Regions from separate parts of the Homo sapiens genome. Here region 1 is linked to region 2. Evidence: fine-mapped expression QTL. Tissue or cell type: whole blood. Region 2 holds a variant in brackets; the other region holds the start of a gene. All regions are shown on one strand. Distances are from middle to middle.

Evidence for each region. PIP is the estimated chance that this variant, and not a neighbour inherited with it, causes the effect.
Region 1: SCAP starts here. The variant in region 2 is fine-mapped to the expression of SCAP in whole blood (TOPMed, PIP above 0.99).

What each region holds. Positions count from the first base shown.
Region 1 is chr3:47,474,431-47,477,174 of GRCh38, forward strand. SCAP (SREBF chaperone) reads right to left here and starts at 1,511. Exons shown (of 23, transcript NM_012235.4): 1 at 1,369-1,511. LOC105377073 (a long non-coding RNA gene) reads left to right here and starts at 1,515. Exons shown (of 3, transcript XR_940821.3): 1 at 1,515-1,934; 2 at 2,212-2,272. RefSeq lists a silencer at 1,059-1,598.
Region 2 is chr3:47,090,888-47,093,387 of GRCh38, forward strand. The region is part of intron 9 of SETD2 (SET domain containing 2, histone lysine methyltransferase); the gene reads right to left. Among named protein-coding and RNA genes, the nearest start is that of SETD2, 72 kb to the right of the region's middle. The variant T/C (reference allele first, on the strand shown) is at 1,240.

The DNA of each region.
Region 1 (2,744 bases), 380 kb after region 2:
GTGCTCAGTGGGAATACTGCAAATGTGTAAAACACCTAAAATGTAAACTATATTAACACACATTTTAAAAGATACAGGTCTTGGCCGGGCACGGTGGTTCACGCCTGTAATACCAACACTTTGGGAGGCCAAGGCTTGTATAATGCTTGAGCCCAGGAGTTAAAGACCAGCCTGGGCAACACAGCAAGACCCCCATCTCTACAAAAAAATACAAAAATTAGCCGGGCGTGGTGGCACACACCTGCTGTCCCAGCTACTGGGGAGGCTGAGGTGGGAGGATCACCTGAGCCCAGGAAATCAAGGCTGCAGTGAGCCGAGATCGCGCCACTGCACTCCAGCCTGGGAGACAGAGTGAGACCCTGTCTCCAAACAAACAAACAAAAAACAAGTCTTTAGGCATCACTGAGGAACACCTAAAATGGATACAGCACTAACTAGACACCCTCGACCCTGACTCCCTAATAAAAGCGTCAGTCTTTTGCTCAATATCCTGACCTGACAGCAAACCAATAAAGACACGGCATAACCAAACTCCACAAATTTTTGGCCAAATAAAAGAAACACACGCAACGCTAACATTAAACCTTTTCTATGGCCGCTTCACGATAAGTATTACAAAATCCCCAGAAAGAGTTTATTCACCTAGCTCCGACTGTCGCCATACAAGGTGGAGCAGTGAGTGACCCGAACCAGGGGCTGACCCCTGCCAGAGCCCCCACAGCGACTCACTGCCCCCCCCTCCGCATTCCCATCTGCACAACTTTCTGTGATTCAAACAGTCCGGAGCCAGGGCTCCCTGCAACTAACGCTATCGTGACATTATAAGCCGGTTAAATACTGAGGTCATAAACCCACTCAGAAGTAAACAGAAGCAACATTAGTGAGCAAAGTTGAGGTTTAAGCAATACGGAAAACTAGAAACCAAGCAAAACCAGCAAAGCAACTAGCGTTGTCTCTCAATAAGATCTTCCAAAAGAGGCAAAGTGGAGAACCTGCTCTCCCCCGCACTCCGGAAAACCCAAACAGCACCAAAGCAGGTTCTACAACAGCTTCCCGGAGCAACTAGGCCAGGGGATGCGACGCCGCGCATCTCCCCCCGTCACACCAGGGGCCCGCGGAGGTCTGGTGGGGACGCGGAGCTCCAGGGGCCGGCCGGTGCAGGGACACGGCCGGGTTGGGGGTGGGGACGCGCGGCCCTGCCTCCTTGCCGGCCTGCGGTCTCCAGGGCCGGCCCGCACGGCTGCTGGACAGCGCCATGCCCACGCACCCCCGAACCTAGCGGCCCCCATTCCGGAACTCCCAGCTCCACGCGGCTGGGGTCGAGCTGGGGCCCGCGGGCAGGCGCCCTGAGCACCCGCGTGACGGTACCTGTGGTGGCAGCACCTCCCAAGCTGCGGCGGCGGCGGCGGCGGCGACGGGGGCGGCAGCAGGGGCGGAGCGCGGCGTGCGCGCTCTCGGCCCGCAGTCCGGTGCGTGGCGCCCTCCCTCTCTCTCCTGGCCGCCGGGTGCCCGCCCCTTCACCTCTCACCTCCTACCTTTACCCTCCCGCCCCGCCGCCCTCCGCACGTGCGCCCAGCGGCGTGCGCATGCGTAGTCGAACCACATTCGCGTCTCCCGTTCGCCCTCTGGTGGACACCGGAGGGAAGTATGGACGGCCGGGCCGGGCCGGGCCGGGCGGAGCGTGAAGCCGGGTTAGGGCCCGCCGGGTTTGGGCCCACCGGCTCTCATCGGTCATCAAGAACTTGCAGAAAGCCGGGCACGGTGGCTCGCGGTTGTAATCCCAACACTGTGGGAGTCCAAGGCGCGAAGATCGCTTGAGCCGAGGAGTTAGAGACCAACTTGGGCAACGTAGGAGACCTCCGTCTCCACAAGTAAAATTAATTAGCCGGCTGTGGTGGCGCGCACCTGTGGTCCCAGCTACTCAGGAGGCTGAGGTAGGAGGATCACCTGAGCCCGGGAGGTCGAGGCCACAGTGAGACAAAAAACAAAAAACCCACCCTGCACAAGATGCTCATGTTCCCTGTTTTATAATGGCAAAAAATTAGAAGCAGCTGGGCCGAGATACACTGCAAATGCAGATGAGAAGAATAAATAATGTCCATAAAACTAGTTTCCCTATAGACATTTAAAAGCATAAGTTGACATTTAACCATTTTCCACAGGGAACAGGTATTTGTTATAATAGCAACAGCTACGTTCACTGTTTACTAGGTGTCAGTTGCGGAGCTGGTATTGTACATGTCCTCGCATTTGGCCCTCCTGAAAATCCGAGGTAGGTCTTGTTACAGGGCCTCACAGAAGGGGAAGGGGAGGCTGCCTCCCCTCGAGGGAAACACAGGTCCCCACCTGCCCAGCTCTGGCCCAACTAGAGACGCTGCCCGGACCACTCTGGGGGGACTTTGATCATGCTACTGCATGCCCTTGCTGTACCCAGGTCTTGTGTCAGAGGTAAGCCTCCCCTCAGCCCCTGCCTACTGCCCGAGACACCCGCACCCACCCCAGGGCTACCTGGATAAGGCAGGCCCTGTACCTGCCCTCAAAGGCACCAGCAAACTTCTCTGGGAGTTCCAGAAAGTGCAGATCTAGTCACCAATGCAAGGCAGAAATTAGAGGTGGCCCTTCTGACCGCACCAGCCCCCGACCCACTACACATTCTTCAGATACCTCCTCCTAAAACCCAGTTCCCACCGGACTCTGGCCTCCCTCCTTGCCCACCACACTATTGTCACAATGAAAGTAACAAT
Region 2 (2,500 bases):
GCTATTTATCCCTTAATATAATTTCAGGCAAGGCACTGAACATTTTTATTTCATATTGTACCCAAAAATTCACATTCTGGTAAAGAACAAGAATAAATGAGAAAAAATAAAGTGCTGCCTGAGAGAGGTTGTAGAAACTCAAACCCATTTTTCTTTCTAAAATGTACATTTAAGGCTCATTCTTTTTCATTTCCAATACCACTTAAGTTTTTGAGTAAATACATGAACAGAAAAACCAATTTAAAGTTGTCTTAATCCAAGAAAGACAATTTCATTAAAGATATCTTTTCCTTGCATATCCTAAATGTAAGCCTTCCTGTGTCCCAAATTCTACGGTATTAGATGAGTTCAAGGGCTTTAAAATTCTACTTTCCCCCTCAACTGTAACAGCCAGAATACTGCTTTTGACAGATTTTTGAGACGAAAATATTCACAGGGCTAAAAAATGAGATATTTTCAGCCAGACACAGTGGCTCACACCTGTAATCCCAGCACTTGAGAGGCCAAGGCGGACAGATCACCTGAGGCCAGGAGTTCGGGACCAGCCTGGCAAACATGGTAAAACCCCATTTCTACTAAAAATACAAAAATTAGGCCAGGCACGGTGGCTCACGCCTGTAATCCCAGCACTTTGGGAGGCCAAGGTGGGTGGATCACCTAAGGTCAGGAGTTCAAGACCAGCCTGGCCAACACGGTGAAACCCAGTCTCTACTAAAAATACAAAAATTAGCCGGGCATGATGGCAGGTGCCTAAAATCACAGCTACTCAGGAGGCTGTGGCAGGAGAATCACTTCAGCGCGGGAGGCGGAGGTTACAGTGAGCCAAGATCGTGCCACTGTACTCTAGCCTGGGCGACAGAGCAAGACTCTGTCTCAAAAATAAATAAATAAATAAAATAAAATAAAAATTAGCCAGGTGTGGTGATGCACATCTGTAATCCCAGCTACTCTGATGGCTGAGGCAGGAGAATCACTTGAACTTGGGAGGCGGAGGTTGCAATGAGCTAAGATCATGCCACAGCACTCCAGCCTGGGTGACAGAGCAAAATACTCTCTTAAAAACAAACAAAAAAAAAGAGGTATTTTCTTTTTAAAATTAGGCATGTTATGACTGTTTAAAAACTCTAAATTATGTTATTTACATTCATTCAATAACATTTATTGAATAGATATTGTGTAAGGCATTTCCAGGATATAAAGAAAATCACGTTCTAACTAAAGAAAAATAAACCGTAAAAA[T/C]GCAGAAACTGCAGTATAAATTAAGTTTTGCAAACAAAATAAAGATGAATAACCCTTGAACATTCCTCAGCGGTTATACTGTAACACACATACACATAAATGCATGCCAATTCCAGTGGTGATAATACAGCTTCCCTAATTTTGGGTGCTCAAGCATAGCAATCAATTGTGCAATAACTTTTAGGGTACCTGGGAGACAGAGGTGGGAAGACTGAGTTTGTCTCCCTTCCTTTCAATTAAATTACATTTATTAAAAGTCTTAGATTTTATGTATGGGTCAACATCATCCAAGAATATGAGGTAAGTAACTAAAAGTAAACATAAATGTAAGAATGATTAGGGTGTATTTTTAAATTATTGATAAACTGAAAATTTATATATATTAAATATATATTTATACATTATATATTTATCTGTAATTTATAGATAGTATATATTTACTATATATAGTGCATATATATGCACAATTCTATAGTACTTGAAAATGTATTAAGTACCTAATCATTGCAAGATACTATTTTTTAATACTTGAATATTTGTGGCACTAAGGGGTCTAAGTAGCATTTTAAATACTTCTTGATGGAATACAACATACAGTATGCAGAATACACATATAGACAGAAATATATAAAAACAATTAGTAAATAGGTTTAATAAACAGGTGAGCAACACCCATACAGCCACCATCCAGGTAAGTTTAAAAAACAGAATACTGCTAGCATTCCTGTAGTGCCCCATGTACCTACCCCTTCCTGGTTATAACAGCAACCCTTCCTATGCTTTGGAGATAACTTATCCTAACATTTTAAGAAATAGGTCTTCAATTTTCTTTATAGGTTTACTATCCATATGCAAATTCCTAAATATTAATTTTTTTTAAGTGATGGAAGCTAACTTTATTAGAAATGAAAGGTTCACTCTTGTCCTTGCTCCCTAATTACTTTAATTTTACTTTAAGTTCTGGGATACATGTGCAAGAACATGCAGGTTTGTTACATAGGTATATAAAATTTTGTCTATCTTTATGGAAATGAAATCATACTGGACAAAATATTTTGTCATGCTTCTTTCACTCAACCTTACATTTTAAGAGTTATCCATGTTACTGTATGCAGCCAGTTTATTTTCATGACTATTTCTTTTATAATTTATCCATCCTTTTTTTTTTTTTTTTTGAGACTGAGCTTCACTCTGTCGCCCAGGTAGGAGTGCAGTGGCATCATGTCAGCTCACTGCAACCTCCATCTCCTGGGTTCAAGCA